4 linked regions of the Homo sapiens genome follow. The protein of the gene in region 3 purifies or fractionates together with the protein of the main gene of each other region. This does not show direct contact. Each region holds a gene or a part of one and is shown on either strand. Other genes may lie near its edges.

Region 1 (4,928 bases), on a different chromosome or scaffold from region 3:
GTGAGTAGGAATTTTAAAAATCACATAAAGCATATACCTCGGACAGGTTTTGGTTCTTTTGCCTTTTTTTGGTTTATGTTTTGTTTTATTTTGAGACGTAGTCTCTGTTTCCCGGGCTGGAGTACAGTGGCACGATCAAAGCTCACTGTGGCCTCAAACTCCTGGGCTCAAGGATCCAGTGATCCTCCCACCTCAGCTCCCCAAGTAGCTAGTGGGCGCCACCATGCTCAGCTAATTACTTTTTGTAGAGATGGGGATCGTGCTGTGTCGACCAGGCTCAAGCAGTTCTCCCACCTTGGCCTAGTTCTAAAGCACAGGGTGGGCCACTGCACCTGGCGCGGATGGGTTTTTTGTTGTTGCTGGTTTTAGTATCTGACATGTGCCCAAAAAATCACTTTTTTATTCATTTGCAGTGAACTGCTCAGAGCATCTAAATTAATGGTTTATGGCAGGAAAAGATTTCCGTCTGATGAGATTTGGTAGCTTTGCATTTAAAATACTCATTTCTCCTGGCCTCTTTTCTGTGTTGAAACGTTTGGTGCCAACTGAGTGATCACTGTGTGTGTCCTTGGCACTGACATTGGGCCTCTGGGTTGAAGTCCAGTAGTAACGGTATGTGGTGTGTGTCTGTTATTTTTTCCCCAGAGGGAGAGACAAGCTCAACGAGAAGATGCCCTCGAGCTCACGGAGAAGCTAGACCAAGACTGGAAAGAAATTCAGACTCTCCTGTCCCACAAAACTCCCAAGTCAGAGAACAGAGACAAAAAGGAAAAACCCAAGGTGGGAGCCAAGTACTGAAACAAACTCTTCACTCACTGAGCTTGGGTGACCGACTTTCTCCAGAGAAAGGGCTGGGGCTGGACGGCTCTTCTACCTGTCTCCTTTAGGGCAAGTTTCTGTTGAACATTGATACTGAATTACCTGCTGTGTGTAATCTTGGGGTGGAAGTAGATTCAGTTACTTGAGTCTCTATTGCAGGTGAATTAAACTGAAAAAAGTGGTGTTTCTGGATGGAAGAAGTACTTCAGGGTGGACACGTTAGAATAGGTGTCTGAACTTCCCTGTGACATGTTTGTCTGTTGATACATAATACATACATTTAATATACATTTACTTATTTTTGCCTCTGTAAACAGTTGTTTCCTACTGCATTCTCTTTAGTCGAAACTATTGGAAAATGCTGCATTTGTTTAAGAAACTGCGTTCTCAGAGAAGTCTAGATCCCAGCAGATTAGTGTCATGTGGTCATCTGTGCATCTTTGTCAGTCAGCCTTGATGTTACCGTTACTTTACTTAGTTTCCCACGTTTAGGGCGTAATGCCTGGATAAGTAGCGTTTTTGTTGTTGTTTGAGACGGAGTCTCGCTCTGTCACCCAGGCTGGAGTGTAGTGCAACCTCCACCTCACTGCAACCTCCACCTCCTGGGTTCAAGTGATTCTCTTGCCTCAGCCTCCCGGGTAGCTGGGATTACAGGCGCGTGCCACCATGCTTGACTAATTTTTGTATTTTTAGTAAAGACAGGGTTTCACCATGTTGGGCCAGGCTGATCTCAAACTCCTGACCTCACGTGATCTGCCCACCTTGGCCTCCCAAAGTGCTGGGATTACAGGCGTGAGCCACTGCACCTGGCCTGTTTTCGTTAAAGCAGATGTATTCTGAGAATTTTTCTAGGGGTAAACAAATTCTTTGTGACCGAATGTCCACTGATTTCGCAATCCTCAGGGCTTATCAGAACAGTTTTCTCTCTAGAAGAAAAGACGTAGATGTGGCTTAGCTACTTCAATAACATTATCTAGCCATTACTAGAATGTGCCAGGAAGCTAGATCTTTTCTTTTTGTAAAATAAGAAATAAATATATTTTTAAAATGAAGAATTTCTTCTTTCTACCTTAGCCCGATGCATATGACATGATGGTTCGCGAGCTTGGCTTTGAAATGAAGGCGCAGCCCTCTAACAGGATGAAGACGGAGGCAGAATTGGCAAAGGAAGAGCAGGAGCACCTCAGGAAGCTGGAGGTAGGGTGGCAGCACCTCAGGAGCAGGGCTGTGCTGCTGTCCGTCCACAGCCCCTTCTGCTCCATTTTGCAGGATGGGCTGAAGAGAATACTCTGTTTGATCAGTGGAATATTTTAGTCTATTTAAAGTTTATATTTATTCATGAATACCTTTTTTTTTTTTTTTCTTTGAGACAGAGTTTCGCTCTGTCACCCAGCTAGAGTACAGTGGCACAATCTTGGCTCACTGCAAACTCCACCTCCTGGGTTCAAGTGATTCTCCTGCCTCAGCCTCCTGAGTAGCTAGGATTACAGGCGCCTGCCACCACGCCCGGCTAATTTTTGTATTTTTAGTAGAGATAGGATTTCGCCATGTTGGCCAGGCGGTCTTGAACTCCTGACCTCAGGTGATCCAGTCACCTCGGCCTCCCAAAGTGCTGGGATTACAGGTGTGAGCCACCGCGCCTGGCCCCAGCTAATTTTCAAAAATTGTTTGTATAGATGAGCATCTCCCTATGTTGCCTAGGCTGTTCTCAAACTCCTGGTCTCAGCTGATCCTCCCACCACGGCCTCCCACAGTGCTGGGGTTACAGGTGTGGGCTGCCATCACAGCTGGCTCAGCTGGCTGTTTTGACATAACCACATCACTAGCTTCTTCCCGTGTCCAGTGTGTGGTCAAATAGTGGAGGCCGTGGAGCTGCTTGCTCTTGGCGTCCTGGCTCCTATTCTCTCGGTGCAGGGGGTGATGAGTCCCAGTCGGGGCTGGCCAGCAGAATTGGGCTGTGAAGGCCTCAGAATAATAGGCTTGCCTGGTGACTGGAGAGTATTGGCCACAAAGTTTGAACAGTTGATTTTGTTAAATGAGGAATGTGCTGCTTAGCTAGTGTTTGCATGCCTGATTGAAAACTGCAGGCAGAAAGCAGGCTGGATGCACCAGCCTCAGAGCTGGGAGGACCGTAGGCCCAGCCCGCTGCCCAGGGCAGGACTGCACGGCCCCCTCACCATATGTTGGAAGAGTGTGCTCTAAGACATCTCATTCCTTCCTGCTCAGGCTGAGAGACTTCGAAGAATGCTTGGAAAGGATGAGGATGAAAATGTTAAGAAACCAAAACATATGTCAGCAGATGATCTGAATGATGGCTTCGTGCTAGATAAAGATGACAGGCGTTTGCTTTCCTACAAAGTAAGATGTTTGCCTTCATTTTCTCTTTCTCTCTCTTTTTTTAATTTAAAAACATTTTTTTGGTATTCATTTTAGGGATTTATTACAGTTGGGAATTTTAAATCTTTTTAACCAGTTTCTCTAAAGTTCTTTATCTGGGTGTTTATGGTATATCAGATATTAAAACTTTAGAGAGAAGACTTTAACAATAGTATGTGCACTCACTTGCTCACGCTCTCTTTCTCACTCTCTCTCTCTGTCTCAAAGGAACACAGATAAAACTGATTACTCGGTTAACATCAACTACTTTTGTTAATAACTGTATGATTCTATCTGCATGACCTCATCATACTATTGAGGGAGCTAACTCAAGGCTAGAGTTGTGAATTTTCTTTGAGTGATGTCATTGAGTTTCCATGACTGGTGTAGTTTTTAATTCACGAACTTTATAAATCGGTACCCTTTTCTCGTTTTAAGAGTGTATCAGTCAGGGTCCAGGGAAGAAAAATAGGCAGGACAGGTTTCAAGCAGAAGAGATCCACACAGGAAAATGGATACTGATAAAAACACTAGGTTACCTGGAGGAGCAGAAGGTGCTGTAGACACTCCTCCTGCTAAAGCCCGCAGCCACTGTACACCTTCCAAATCCCAGTCCCATGCTGCTCCCTGGCAAAAGCTGAACCGCGCCCAGCATCCTGCCGCAGGGTTCTCTAGCAGCCTGTAGCTCCTGCGGCTCGAATAGCCTAGAAGCGGGTGGTGGGCAGGAGGCCTAGTGCCAGTGGGCAAATGGAGCACACAGGTTTGTGTTCCTTGCAACCACGTAGAAAGCCCTGATGTGGGCAGCCTCTTGATGTGGCTGTGAGATGGTCCAGCGTTGTCTCCGCCTGTCCTCATGCCCTGTGGTTTCCACGCTCTTGGTAGGATGGAAAGATGAATGTCGAGGAAGATGTCCAGGAAGAGCAAAGCAAGGAAGCCAGTGACCCTGAGAGCAACGAGGAAGAAGGTGACAGTTCAGGCGGGGAGGACACAGAGGAGAGCGACAGCCCAGATAGCCACTTGGACCTGGAATCCAACGTGGAGAGTGAGGAAGAAAACGAGAAGCCAGCAAAAGAGCAGAGGCAGACTCCTGGGAAAGGGTTGATAAGCGGCAAGGAAAGAGCTGGAAAAGCTACCAGAGACGAGCTGCCCTACACGTTCGCAGGTGGGCAAGTGCGCGGGTTTCCTCAGGTTCTGGGATAACCTTTATGACCTGGCCATAGCTGTGTGTGTTCGTCTCCCTCCCAGGGGTTGCATTTGTGGAATGGGGACCAAGGATGCCCTTGGGAGTGCCTGGACACACCCCTGTGTCTGCTGATCCAGGTCTTAGAGTGAGTGGTCATCTTAGTTTGTGACTGTGGTTCTGTAGGCCGGCCCCCGATGGGCCAGATGCGCCTCTCTCTAGTGGTACCTTCACCTCCCTTTTAGTATATGGTCAGCCTCTTGTGGTGGACCAGAGGGGCAGGGCTGGGGAGGTGGGTGAGCATCTGCGAGAAGGCTTCCATGTTCCCACCTGGGCCTCCTGTTTGGCCACGTAACATTTTAGATGGAATATACAGTGTTGTTTTGTCTAGTATGTGGAGAAAAATTGTCCAGGCCAGGTGCGTGGCTGATGCCTATAATCCCAACACTTTGGGAGGCCAAGGTGGGTGGGTCACTTGAGCCTTGGAGTTTGAGACCAGCCTGGGCAACATTGCGAAACCTCGTCTCTACCAAAAATATAAAAAATAAGCCTG
Region 2 (4,516 bases), on a different chromosome or scaffold from region 3:
CAGCCTCCACCATGTTTGGGCTGGATGGGACAAACTATGCAATCTAGTGCAATGTCAAGTCCTTATTGTGTCCATGAAAGCTTAGCTGCCAGGTCAACAGAGCAGCTTTACACTGTCAACTTTTCTTGTTCCTATATCCGAAGTGACCAGGGAGAAGGCCTCTTCCCCCACAGAATTCGTGTGAACTTGTATCTCGAGCTTCAGAGTAAGAGTCTTCAGGTACACATCATTCATTACTGATCTATAGATTATGAACCTGGAAGAATATTGGGAGGAGTGAGTAGGAAGATCAACTTAAAGTTATAACATTAAGATATATCCACTATCAGTTAAAGACCACTAAGAAACAGAGGAAAAGCATTTCAGAAATGAAATTGCTAGGCAAATAGTTGTATATATCAAAAAAGTTGATATATGCAACTTTTAAGGAACCTACTGCATTAAAAAGATCTACATACACCAGTTGGATATGTATTTTGAAAACAGCAAACCACCAGGTAGAACTATCACGAAACATAGTCACAGTCACTACTTAGTGACTACTACTAGTTGACCATATGATTTATCATCCAAAATGGGGCACTCTGAGAATAAAAAGAGGCAATATTAAAAATTATGCCAGGACAATGGGTGTTTCCTAGGCAAATGAACAAGACTGGTCGTCTTTAGTAACTATCCCCTACTTATCACGCATGGAGAAAACCAGACACTCATTCAGTCATACAAATATCTTCATCAGGCAAATCAACAGCAGCAGCAGTAGTCAGAATGAACAGGATACCAGTCCACTGTGGGCTTTATTTTGATCCTGAATGGTCATGCTAATCCTTACCATCTCCACTAAATAAAAATGGAATAAGAGTCACTTCCTTTATATACTTGTTTTTCTTGTCCCTTCACACCTGATCTATATTTGATCTTTAAAACGGCCATTTCTATCCCCATTTGAAGTTTAATTCTGATTTAAGAAAGGACACACTCTTCTATGCTAAATCAAACAAAACCATTCTTCAAATTTTCAAAGGCTTCCCTCTTCTCCAAAGGTTGCATAAACCATATCTTTTTTCATCAAGACTGACTTCTAGGTCATTCACTGAATCAACATAGCAAAAAACAAGTCACTAGCCACAAACATTTATTGTTGGGGTCAATACGTATATCCTTTTGAGAAGTGTTTCGAGCCATTCATTTGATAACTACAAACACGTCAGAATCTGTTTTACTGGTATATTTTTGGCTTGCATGACAAGGGAAAAGAGATTATTGCAAAATTATGAATGAAGTCCAAAAGGCCTGATTAAAAAAAAATCTATAAAATGGAAGGATTAAACACTGCCCAGCCCTACTGTGTCAACAAAGACGGTACAATTCAAATCAAGAAGACAATCCCATACAAGTCCAGCAAGGCAGATGTTGGCAAGTAGAAGTTAAGCAATCTGTTATACAAAATGCAAAAGGAGTTAAAGATAAATTACAAAAAATAAAAAACAAAATTTTAGTCAGAAAACTATTACTACATAAAGCCATATAAGAATGTGTATTAGTTGTTTCCTTTAAGGGAAAAGGAAATCAAACTGTTGGTTTTCTATTTATTCAGAAGAAAAAATAAAGGAAAGTGTTTGGAAAATATTTCTGATATTAAGTGAATTATTTCTCATCTGCTACCTAGAGTTTACAAACAACTGACTTATCCTTGTCAATCTGTGGAAATGAGAAAATAAAATCAGCGTCTGGCCTTCGTGGGATACTCATAACACCCGAATGAGGTCCAGAGTAATCCTAGATCGGGGGATGTCAATGTTGAGTACTTGGACTTCCACTCTTTCTCCGGGGCCCAGTCCAAGGCTTCTTCTCTTCTTTGTTTTTGAAAGTTTTGCTTCTGTTACATTTCGTATGGGAATCAGCCCAGATTTCCCCACTCCTATATCCACAAAAATTCCAAAGAGAGTGGCATTCTCAACTTTGCCTGTAAGAACTGTCCCAATCTGCAGATCTTCCAGGCATACTATGCTTCTCTTGAAATCAGGTTTATCAAAATCTGTAAGAGAAAAAAAGTAAGTGTAAATAAGGCATTGTACTTCCTAGATACAACATAACTTTGTGAATAAGTACTTACTACATACTATGTGCCCAGACCAATATTAAAGATTAAGGGGGGATTATAAAAGGAGCTGCAGACCAACGCTTGCCTTCAGAGAACATGCATATCAGTTGGAGACAGCATTCATGCAGTAGAAACAATTCAAGAAAATTTACTTCCTTCTACAATGCTACACACTAGCATTATACATAAGGATCGAGAAGACAGTCTTATTTTCCTCTTTGTGAAGAGGTGATGAGAATATATATTTGCTTAACAAATATACAAAGCTAAACCACAAACACTGAGAAAGTAAGACCTTTGGAAACAAGAGACTGGAAGCTTTTTTTTTGGTTTTTCCCCCAGTGCCTGGATTATTAAATTGTTTAAAGATGGTAGAAAGTACATCAACTTTTGGCCAAATGTGGATGAAATTCAAATGTTCTTTCTTCCTCACTTCTTCCCACAAATTTGGAACTCAGAAAATCAATTCCCACCTATTTCATATATATTTATCCAATCAACATTTATGGATTCTTGATTATCTATGGCTCAGAATCCCAGACCAGGTAGTATCTAATATTCTTTCTCTTCTTTCAATTAAATTCATCAAACATTTGTTAACTCTATTATCTCCTGGCCAGGCACTCTGCTGGGTGCTAGAGAAACAATGATGAAGATACAGATTTCTGTTTCCAAGTTCTTTATAGCCCTTTTTTCTTGCTCACCCCAGCATACATTTCTTTGTTCATTATTGTCCAAAAGGTAGGCATAAAGCATGCCAAGGAATCATTATGGTTCTAGTTAAAAACAAAGGTTTTTATGAGGGAGACAGTTAGAGTTAGAACTAACAGTTTAAACGGGGCTGTGGATTATCTGTGGACTCCATTTATCCATGCTCCTCCTGAAGGCCCCCTTTCCTAGGATTACTGAGTGTTGACTCTAATAACAAAGAACACATTCTATGCTTGGATCTCCTTTTACTAAGGCCTCATTTTCCCCTCCACCCATTCCATTTCCTTTTCCTCCACAGCTGTTGGCTTTATCCTGATGACTTGTTAAAGCTATCCTTTACATTTGTATTAACAACTGGTCACCCCTTTCTTCCCTTCCCCCAGTCCAACCATACTGATACCAAGACGTTTTAAAAATTAAGCTTTTTCTTATAAAACAAAATAAAAACCTTCTTTAAACTCCAAATCTCACTGTACACATAAAAATGAGTACGCTAAAATTGGAATTGATTCTGTGGAATTTTACCTGATGCTAAAGCAGTGAATTCCAAAAGCAAGAAACCTACTGTAATGTAATATTACACCAGGCTAAGGCTGTGTCAAAGCAAAGTGGAACTAAGTCACTGATCAGGGGCAGAGGTAGGACGGGTCTCCGAGACCCCATAGGCATTGTTTTTATGCTTGGAAATTCTTTCTCTCTCTCTCTTTTCTTGGGGAGGTCCAGCTGCTGCAGATTCCCTAAGGGTTCCTGATCAGCTGTTTAGTTTAATCTTGCAAGGAAAATCAGAGTCAGGAACTACTTAACATATTCCTGAAGACAGTTGGGGACACTGAGAAATCAGAAAATCCTCTGTGTACCATGCAAACTTTAACACTTTCATAGCCAAGCATTTTCAGCCCCTGTGTCTGGACTGCTTCTAATAAACCCAGTTAGGGAAATTAACTAGTCACCATAGTGTTAATACACATGAAATTAATTACACCATTGACAAAACAAAAGACAGAATTATTATGAGTAAAGAATGAGGCATTAAGAAAGGAAATACTTTTGAGAAAATGGAGAAAAGAGATGTAACATAAAATATCATCACGTGGAAATGCCCAAAATACTATCTGCCCCCTCGAAAGTATAGTTTGTAAGCCTTCCTCACCTTGGGTATGTGTTTAGTAGTAAGATGAAAGTTCTCAGACATTTTGAAAATTGTGACTTACATTAGAGCAAAGGTCAGTTCCAAAGTTTTTTTAAAGAGACCTATTTAAAACTTCACTTGCCACACTGATAGAACACTGCAGTAAGTGGAAAGCTCAGTCCAGAGCCCAGATGCATCTGTCTTTTTGCTCAACAACTTGGTAGTTTAATTGGACCATATAATTTGAGTGTTGATCTTTGCTCTGAGTCTACAATGCAACTGGGATAATGGAACAATCGACACTATGACAGAAAAATGAAGATGGATGTGAAAAATCCAGTACAGGATACCTGCAGTTACAGCATTTTTTGCCAACCCTCTAATGCAAAGGGTGCAGCCATACCACCTCCAAATCCAGTATTTTTGAGAACCACTGCTCCACCTAGTACTCCTGCTAAAAACCAGCCCAGAAATTCCCATAAAAGGATACTGGGCCTCCAAATGGAGATGGATTTGTCTGCTGAAACATCCACATTGTGTGGAGGACTACTAGGAGGCTTCTACTCCCACAT
Region 3 (4,928 bases):
CGGCCCAGACTTTTTTTTTTTTTTTAAACATTTGCTACATGTAAGGCGTACAAGGTGCTGTGGAGTACAGGGAAATGAAACAGTTTCTGCGTGTAAGACTCTCCACGGTTTATTAGGTGCTTTAGGACATGGACCAGGCAACTGAATATAAGGGCATGAGTGGTGTGTGCCCTAGGGAGTCATGGGGCTGCCAGAGCACAGGAAAGCCTTGGGTGGAGGGGCTGCACCTTGAAGGCTGGGAGGAATTTGGATAGTCAAGGAGAGGGTTTCTGAGTGAGGGAACAGTGGGCAGAGGCACAGATGCCGGTGGGAAAGGGGTCTGAGATGAGAGGGATGAACGAGAGATTCCACGGAAGATGGGGTTGAGTGTGGTTGCTTCCTAGAAGGCACTTAAGTGTGTCCTAAGAAGTTTGGGCTTGATGGAGTAGATGATGGGGAGTTGGCAGGTGACGGGATCAGATGTGTGTTTAAGGAAGGTGATTTTCTGGTGAAAGAGGAGAGAGAGTTAGGTGGAAGCATTTGAGCTGGTAGCACTGAGCATTGGTGCGGGGAAGTGAAAGTTGGGAGAGGCTGTGGGACAAGCCAGTGGGGTGGAGGTAGGGCTCTGTGTGTGTACAGCAGGGCGGAGGGGAAGGGCAGGAAGGAAGACATAGTGACTGGTTGAGGTTTTATTTATTTATTTTTTGAGATGGAGTCTTGCTCTGTTGTCCAGGCTGGAGTACAGTGGCACAAGGCTTACTGCAACCTCTGCCTCCCAGGTTCAAGTGATTCTTCTGCCTCAGCCACCTGAGCAGCTGGTATTCAAGGCACATGCCACCAAGCCCAGCTAATTTTTGTATTTTTAGTAGAGACGGGGTTTCACCGTGTTGGTCAGGCTGGTCTCGAACTCCTGACCTCAAGTGATCCACCCATCTCAGCCTCCCAAAATGCTGGGATTACGGGTATGAGCCAATGCACCTGGCTGCTTGAGGTTTTAAATCTGGGGGTTGTAAAGACACTTAACAGGTAGAGTGGAAGGGAGTGATTTAGGAGGAAGGGTGATGGGATGGCTGTGTGTATGTGAGTAGTCTAAAGCCTGTTTCCTTGGATTGGAGGAAGGGAACAAGGAGGGGTGTGTGGGCAGACAGCCTTGACACGGAGGACTTTTCAACTCAAGATGCAGATGGAAACAAGGTGGAGGAAAGGTTTCTTGGGACTATGGGACATAAATGCTGTCCTTCTGTATGTCCTATTTTTCCAGTGTTGTAGAGTCATGACCTGCAGTGGACCTGCACTTTTTTTGTCTTTAAATTTTTAAATTTAAAAATACTTTAAGTAAAGATGGGGTCTTGCTATGTTGTCCAGGCTGGTTTGAAGTCCTGGCCTCAGGCAATTCTGTCTTGGCCTCAGAAAGTGCTGGGATTACAGGGCGTTGAACCACTGTACGTGGCCTCAACCTGCACTTTCTAAGAAGGGAAGCTGTGGGAGGAGGGGTTTCTCTTGGAGAGCCAGGACGGATGATGTCAAGAGGCTTGAAGTGGTTGGGGGAGCAACGTGGATTGCTCCGTTGCCTGACTAGGTCCCTTCCTTTTTAGCATTTCTGCTGTGCAGTGGCTCTGTAATGCTAACAAGAAGTCTGAAAACCCTGCCAAGCGCCTGTACTGCTTTTTTGCTTCTCTTTTTTCTGTTCTCGTGAGTATAAGATCTTCTCCCCATCTGGGTTAGCTGCCTGTCCCTCCCTAGCACTGCAGGTAGAGTGAGGAAATTGAGGTGTCCCATGATGGGTAAGCTACTCATATGGGACCGCATGGGGTGGCAGGACCTTACTGTGGTTACTTCTGTCCAGGTCCTCAGCCTAAATGGAAGTTCAAGCTCAGTGGACTGATATACTCTAATCAAACCCAGAAGTCACTGATACCAAAATCGGAGACCAATTTATTAACTTGTAATAGGGCCTACTTCTGTTGATTGGTATTCCTATGTCTATTGCGCTGAGTTTTAATCAGAAGTTGGTTTGGGGGCATGGACTGAGCAGAGTGAGGACAGAGATGTCGTGTCCGGACCATCCAGAGGGGTACCTTCCAAAGTGCCCACATCCTTCTGACTCCTCACTTATCCCTCCTCCTAGTGCTGATCCTTTTCTTCGGATGAGGAACAGGATAGTTATTTACTGCAAAGAGAGCCTTTATTAGCTTTGTCTTCAAATTAATGATGTTAATTTCAGTTGTTCACTAGGATTAGCTGATAGTCTGAGATTTTAAGTCCTAAAAATGAGTTCTTTTTAAATTTTGTTTTTTGAGACAGACTTTTGCTTTGTTGCCTGGGATGGAGTGCAATGGTGTGATCGTAGCTCACTGCGCCCTCGAACTCCTGGGCTCAAGTGATCCTCCTGCTTCAGCTTCTCAAGTAGTTTGGACTACAGGCACACACCACCATGCCAGGCTAATTTTTTACTTTTTTTTTTTTAAGAGATGGGGTCTACCTATGTTGCCCAGGCTGGTGTTAAACTCCTGGCTTCAAGCAATTGTCTGGCATCAGGCTCCCAAAGTGATGGGATTATAGGCGTAAGCCACTGTGCCCAGCTTAAAAATGAGTCCGTTTTGAAGGATCTGAGTGGTTTTTGCCTCCTTAGCCTGGTCTAGCCCACCCCTAGTTTTCCTGGGGTGGACTGCACCTGCCGATCTGGCCACTGGTCTTTCTTGGGGTGAACTGCCCCTGCTGATGTGGCCGCTGGTCTTTCCTGGGGTGAACTGCCCCTGCTGATGTGGCCGCTGGCCTTTCCTGGGGTGGACTGCGCCTGCCTATCTGGCCGCTGGTCTTGTGTGTCACATGAGTTCTCCTCCTGGCACACTGGGTTAATATTTTAGTTCTGAGGTCCTTTGTGTTTCCTCTTCTCCCTGCTGGAAGGCTCCTCCCTTATATGTTTAAATAGCCAGCTCCTCACTCCATTCAAATCTCTGCTCAAGTATCCATTTGAAACAGGCCTTTTTGGAACCAAAAGTAAACTGAACTGAAAGGAAACTCTGTCACTTTGTCTAATTCCTCTTTTTGTAACAAAGAAAAAATTTGCTACTGTGAATTAGTTGCCTCCTTTACTAAAATGTGAGCTCCAAAGTTCAGGGTGATCTCTTTTGTTCATACTATCCCCAGCCCTAACAATGCCTCACACATAATGGAAATTCAGGAAATACTTGGTGAATGAAGGAAGAGAGGGGTGTCCAGGCCCTAAGCTCATGCAGTCATTTGTAAGACAGTGATGTTCCTGTTTCTTTCAGGTCCGGGGATCCCGAGCTGTCCTGCAGCTGTACCCTGAGAACTCAGAGCAGGTGAGTCCCTCGGCTACTGGGTGTGCCGGGGAGTTGGGGGACTCAACAGGTAAGCTGTCCTGGGGAAGCGACAAAGAATCTTATGCAGATTGGCGGGAAAAGGAGGAAACATGCACCCTAGTGTGGCCCCTGATGGCACATTTGATGACCTGATATCCTAAGGGGGTGGCATCTGCGGAGGTGGGGTGGGATGCCTTCTCTTGGCAGATGACATGGTATTACAGATAAGGTGATGCGACTGATTTCCATAACCAAATAAGTAAATGCCATTTAGGAAGGGTGAGAGGGCACCGACAGTTCTCCGTTGTGTGATGTATAAATTAAGGAATGGCGGAGTAGGATGTAGATGTTGAAAGATAAGTGAAGAGCTGTTCCTGACTAATAACATGAATGACTCTGGATTCCAATTGGTGGCCATCTCCCTAAACTTGAGTGGGGAGCTGGGTCCCTGCACTGGAAAGTGAGAATGAGGGGAGTTGCTTTGTTCTGTAATTCTCCTGAGGGAGGTGTGGGCCATGCCAGATTCTAGCCTGTACTTTTCTCTACGTGGCTTACAGCGACCTTAAGTTCTCCCAGGCAGGATTTGTCCTGGAGCAGACTGGCTTCTGAAGGAGGGGAGGGAGGTGAAGCTGTCTGCTCCTCTCAACCTCCGCTGCCTGACCCGCTGCCTTTCTTTCCTCAGTTGGAGCTGATCACAACCCAGGCCACAAAGGCAGGCTTCTCCGGTGGCATGGTGGTAGACTACCCTAACAGTGCCAAAGCAAAGAAGTGAGCGCTGGGGGCCGGTGTGCTGCCTGGGCTGCAGGAGGGAGGGTAGTGGCATAGCCCTTTCAGGCCACTCAGTGGTGCAGAGGAGTGCTGGGGTGTGGGTCACCAGGGTCCAGGCAGGCGGAGGGGGTGCGGGTGGGGGAGCTGAGGGCTTGTCTCCCTGTGGGGCTTTCTCCACCCAACCCTCACTTTGCACTTTCTCCTTTCAGATTCTACCTCTGCTTGTTTTCTGGGCCTTCGACCTTTATACCAGAGGTGAGGGACACTGGGTTTGCAGGCAGGCCTGTGTCTTTTGACTTCCAGGCAGTGGGGCTCAGCCTGCAGAGCCTGCTGGGAGAACACTGGTGGGGAAGCAGGGCCCAGCCCCAGAGTGCAGACCCTGGAGTGCTCACATCCTCTGGAATCTGGAGGCAGAGACCTCTGCTCTGCAGGTCCCAGAAAGGCGTGTCAGTTCCTTCTCGTGGGACTGGACCTCGTCCCTGTCGGAAGGGTCAGGCCTGGGTGCCTGGGCTTCTGGAGTGGGGCAGATGGTTTGAGAACTCTCCAGGGTGACCTGAGTGCACTTTGGTTCCTGCAGGGGCTGAGTGAAAATCAGGATGAAGTTGAACCCAGGGAGTCTGTGTTCACCAATGAGAGGTAAAGCAACTGCTGAAGCCTGCCCCGGCTGCAGCGGGGGCTGCCACATTTGTTAGACATGGACTTTCTCTCTGCCCTCACCCAAGCCTCTCAGGTCACATGCAGCAGGGACACCAAGGTGACGGTAGAAACATCAGGTCCCATTTGGACTGTGCCTGTTTGGGGCTAGGGGTTTGGGGTCCTGGATGTCTGGGTGCAGCCATGCAGCCTGGACTCCCT
Region 4 (4,928 bases), on a different chromosome or scaffold from region 3:
GGTGATTTGGTGATTAAAGTAATAAGATCACTTTAGTAGGTTATTTCAGATTGACTTTCTCAGTCAGAATTTTACCTTTTTAATTAAAGCTGCTAGTCTAGTTGAAAGTTTTGGAACCATTAAAATATGTTTGAGTTAAGTGCTTCATATCATCCTTGGGTTTTATTATGCCTGGTTAATAATTTGGGTTATATCTGTGTATTCAGATGGAAATTTCTGTGTTTCCTGACAGATGTTGGATTTCAGTATGTTATCTTCTCTTTTAGGTATTTTCAACCACCAGGAACTTGGATACAGTGTGCTTTAGAATCCAGGGAACTTCTTGCTTTGTGCTTGAAAAAAATCAAAGCCCCTCTGAGTAAGGTAAGTTAAACAGCTAAAATCAGTATTCATAGGTATGTTTTCATTAAAGGTCTCATTTTCAGAAAATTCTTGTGAGTAGGTTTTTCAAAAGGAATTTTTTTTTTTTTTTTTTTTTTTGAGGTGGGGTCTTGAACTGTCACCTGGGCTAGGCTAGAGTACAATGGTGTGATCTCGGCTCACTGCAACCTCTGCCTCCCGGGTTCACACGATTCTCCTGCCTCAGCCTCCCAAGTAGCTGGGATTATAGGCGCACACCACCACATCTGGCTAATTTTTTGTATTTTTAGTAGAGACAGGGTTTCACTATGTTGGCCAGATTGGTCTCGAACTCCTGACCTCGTGATCTGCCTGCCTCGGCCTCCCAAAGTGCTGGGATTACAGGCGTGAGCCACCATGCTGGCCTCGAAAGTAACTATTAAATGTTACTATTGTTGCCAGTAGCACCCCACTACAAACACTTTTTAAAGTTATATATATTCTTTTTATGAAAAGTAAAAATATCTTTTTGCTTTAAAAAGACAGAATTTAATTTTTTTCCTTTGTTATTTATCGAGAATCTCATGTATAATTTTTTAACGGAAATTTTTATGTAAAACCATCACTAAACATAATTGGGATTATAATATTAGGGCTATGTTATTTGGTTTCTTTTTATTGTCATTATTGATCTGGAAATAAAATATTTGTGCCTGTCACTGAAAGTCAGTGCATAAATGTATTAAAAAAAATAGTTTGTTTAAAGTACAGTTTATTTCCTGATATAAAATTGAAAGTGATTGACACTATGAGTTTTCTTTATTTTAAGCTTTATGACTCACTTCTACCATGTTTTTAATTGAAATTGACTCTTTCAGATTGAAGACTTTTCTGATTCTCCTTTAAGCTCTAATAAAATTTCATGTAATAGTTCTTTGAAATTTCTGCCTTTATTTTCCTACTAGGTCCCAGCCAACCCCACAAATTTCTGATGGTCACTTTTTGGCGCTTCTGGCATAAAACTTTGTCTTTTTCCCTTCATATTTTAAAAAACCTTTTTGGTTTTTTTCGCTCCCCTCTGTTCTTGGTGATTTTTACTTTATCTTCTAATCTTTCTAATGAATTGTTTTTTTCCAGTAGTAATGTTTTTAAGTTCCAGAGTCTTTCATGTTCTTGATGCATTTTTTTTAAGTTTTTCTGAAGATTTTGATAATAGGACTTTTTTTGTTTCTTTCTGTTCCCTCATTTGTCTCTGTTTTTTTATGAAGTCAGTTTTTTGTGTGTCTTGGTTTTTTGCTTTTATACTTGGGGTTTTTGTCAAATGTCTAGTGAGTCTTAACAGTTCATTAATTAATTCATCAGATGTTTATTAAGTACCAACTCTGTGCCAAACTGCTTTTGGTGTTGGGGATATGGCAGTGAATAAGGCAATCCCTGTCTTAGAAAGCGTGTATTCTAATTGCACACTAACATGCCAGTGTGGAGCAGCATGTTAGTATGCAGCGATCAAAATAGGTGGATATATTACATGGTATATTAAAAGGTATATTCTGTGGAGAAAGGAGCTAGGAAGAGGATAAGAACTGTGCATGGAAGAGTTGAAATTTAAAGTAAGGGTGTTTAGGGGAGGGCTCACTGATAGGGTGACATTTGAGTAAACACTAAAGATTACAGTAAGGGAGGAAGCTGTGCAGAAATGTGGAGGAAGAGCATTAGGGGTAAAGAAAACAAATGTAGAGACCAAAAGCAAGAGCATACTTGTGTGAATAGAACGGAGTGGTGAGGGGAAAAGTAGTTGGGGATAGAGTCCAGAAAAGTCATGGAAGGCCACAGTGTGTCTGGCCTTGTAGGCCCTTATAGGGGCTGTTTCTTACTCTGAGTGTAAGGAGTATAGAGGGTGAAGGGCAGAGTAGTGAGATGACATGACTTATTAGTATTCCTCTGGCTGCTGTTTTTAGAATGGTTGTAAGGGAGGTAAAGGTGTTTAAGTTTTTGTAATAATCATGAGAAATGGTTTTGGATCAGCAATGGAGGTGGTAAGAAGTGGACAGATTTTGGATCTATTTTTAAGGTAGTAACATTTACTGATGTAGCTGGATGTGTTTTTGTAAGAGACAGAAGAGTTAAGGATGCCTTCCACTGTTCGTGACCTGAGCAGCCAAGTCACTGGGTAGGGGGCATGAGAGTTCATCTGTAACTGGTATTTAGATGTCTACTAGACACTTAAGTAGAAATACTGAGTAGGCAGGTTGATAAATAAGCCAATGAGTGGTCCAGTCTAGAGATAATGAATTTAGGATATAGATAGTATTTAAGGTCATGAATTGGATTAGATTATTTCAGGAGTTTACATAGAGAAGGAAAGAAACTGGAGGACTGAATCCTGGAATCATTCCTTTAATGGGTAATGATGAAGAAATAATTGGGTAATGAGGAGGAATCAGCAAAGGAGACTGAAAGGAGCTGCTAGGAGGTAGGAGGAAAACAGGGTGAGTGTGATGTCCTGGGAGGAAAGGGAAGTGTTTTAAGAAGAAAGGAGTGAGTAGCTATGTGATTTGCAGCTGATGAGTCAAGTAATGAGTTCTGTAGATTTAGTAATGTGGACGACCTTAATAACATGGGCAATTTCTGTTTAGTGGTGGTGGTAAAGATGTCATTTAAATAGAAATTAAAATGGGAGAAGGAAGATAGACAGTTCTTTTGAGATTTGCTGTAAACGAAAACAAAGAAATGGGGCAGTGGTTGAAGGGGAAGTTGGGGAAGGGACACTTGTCTTTTTATGTTATTTTATTTTTTGGAGATAAGGTCTTGCTTTATTGCTCAGGCTAGAGTGCAGTGGCGCTGTCATGTCTCACTGCAGCCTCAAACTCCTGGGCTCAGGTGATCCTTCTGCCTCAGCCTCCTAAGTAGTTGGTACTACAAACATGCACCACCACACCTGGCTGATTTTTATTTTTACTAGAGGTGAGATCTCTCTCTTTCTCTCTCTTTTTGGCCCTGTAGAGCAGAGATCTCACAATATACCCAGACTGGTGTTGAACTCCTGAGCTCAAGCGATCCTCCTGCCTCAGCTTCCCAAAGTGTTGGGATTACAAGCATGAGCCACTGTGCTTGGCCAGGATACATTTCTTAAGATGGTATATATAACTGTATTTGTAAGCTCTCTGGGAGTGTTAGAGTACGGAGGGAAATTTTTGTGAAATTGCAGGGAGAAGAATAATTGGCTGGGGGGTGGCCTCAATAAGTGGAAAAGAGATATAGTACATAGTGAAAGAATACATTTATTTGTTAATTCACTCCTTCATTCAACAAGTATTCAGCACTTACTCTTCACCAAGCACCATTTTGGGAGGCTGTAATATTTCATGGAACAAAGTAAAGATCTCTGCTCTCTAGAGGGGCATTCTGGAGGTTGATCTTGATGGGAGTATGGATAATTCATCTGTGGTAACAGCAGGGAAGGTGTTGAGTGGGAGCTTCTGGGAATTCTCCTCTGGTTCCTTCTTTTGTACTGGAGAAAACAGAAGCGTGGGCAGTAGCTATGTGGGAAGAGCTGTTAGATAGATGTTTGAGGAGAGAGCGGAAGATATGAAATAGTCCTCTAGAACTAGAGGAAATGCACCAGGACAGTGTTGGATGGGTGCTGGGCAGTGCTGAGGGTTACTGTTACAAGTTTAGACTAGTCACTGTGGTGTGCATCTATTTCTGTAGTTCTGTCAGCCACATAGTCAAGGCATAGAGCAGGCAGAGCACTGGATTTAACCAAATTTATAATTTAGCCTAGTGGCTAAGGTGAAATAAGAGAGGGAACAAGGAAATTGAGTGTGTACATGAGAATAATTTTGATTATTGATTTTGAAGCTAGTGAGGAGGAATGAGGAATAAAGTTGGTAGGATGAATGGATTGTCCATTATATTAGCTTGAAAGATATTTGGTGCCCAGGAACTAGAGGAAATAAGCTGGAAAGATGGGAGGTGGTAGTCAGGGAGTAGGATGTTTGGAATTGATAGTTTGGAGGGTTTGCAGTTACTGGTAATAGAGGCATATGAGTGACTGAGATAGGAAGGTGGATAATATTTTGGGAGAAGAAGAACTCAAAGAATGGAGTGAGAGGTCAGGGTATTGTGGGGATCACCTGTGTGGATATTGAAATCGCTAGGTATTAATATTGTTGGAAAGTGTGATGGTGAGCCAGAAGCTAAAATCTTTTGAGAAATGAAAACAAGTGATACAAAGATGAATAGATTACTATAAAAAAGAGAGTTGCGGGTGGTAGAGTCTAATGACTTTAGACTTAGAGCTGGGTATATTTGAGGAGGAGACAAGGAGAATGGTCTGTAATTAGCAATGAAGAGCAAGGACGATAGCTGTCTGGTGCCTGGTCCAGTGATAGGAAGAATCAGTTATCACTTTATATAGCTGCAGGGGAGAGAGAAATCAGGAGATCTAGAAGGTGAAGGGAATGTTCAGCAAAGTTGAGGATTTAGGAGATTTCATTGTTAATGAATGTTGAGCTCCGGAGGGCACAGTAGAAGGGTTTTAGGATTCGGGGAGGAGTGTTAGATGGGGACAGAATAGGGAATATGCA

The links.
Region 1: the proteins of BUD23 (region 3) and NOP14 purify together in Homo sapiens (affinity purification with mass spectrometry; one large-scale study listed by BioGRID and IntAct). This does not show direct contact.
Region 2: the proteins of BUD23 (region 3) and SRBD1 purify together in Homo sapiens (co-immunoprecipitation; one large-scale study listed by IntAct). This does not show direct contact.
Region 4: the proteins of BUD23 (region 3) and NMD3 fractionate together in Homo sapiens (co-fractionation; one large-scale study listed by BioGRID). This does not show direct contact.

Annotation. Positions count from the first base shown.
Region 1 is NC_000004.12:2,949,363-2,954,290, reverse strand, and holds part of NOP14 (nucleolar protein 14), read left to right. Parts: intron 1-645; coding exon 646-780; intron 781-1,893; coding exon 1,894-2,016; intron 2,017-3,045; coding exon 3,046-3,177; intron 3,178-3,212; exon of another isoform or gene 3,213-4,077; coding exon 4,078-4,357; intron 4,358-4,928. UniProt on the Homo sapiens protein: Involved in nucleolar processing of pre-18S ribosomal RNA. Has a role in the nuclear export of 40S pre-ribosomal subunit to the cytoplasm.
Region 2 is NC_000002.12:45,387,562-45,392,077, forward strand, and holds the end of SRBD1 (S1 RNA-binding domain-containing protein 1), read right to left. Parts: intron 2,039-4,516; coding exon 1,749-2,038; 3' UTR 1,119-1,748; downstream 1-1,118.
Region 3 is NC_000007.14:73,689,342-73,694,269, forward strand, and holds part of BUD23 (18S rRNA (guanine-N(7))-methyltransferase), read left to right. Parts: intron 1-1,574; coding exon 1,575-1,671; intron 1,672-3,254; coding exon 3,255-3,305; intron 3,306-3,987; coding exon 3,988-4,073; intron 4,074-4,282; coding exon 4,283-4,328; intron 4,329-4,650; coding exon 4,651-4,709; intron 4,710-4,928.
Region 4 is NC_000003.12:161,226,981-161,231,908, forward strand, and holds part of NMD3 (60S ribosomal export protein NMD3), read left to right. Parts: intron 1-266; coding exon 267-363; intron 364-4,928. UniProt on the Homo sapiens protein: Acts as an adapter for the XPO1/CRM1-mediated export of the 60S ribosomal subunit.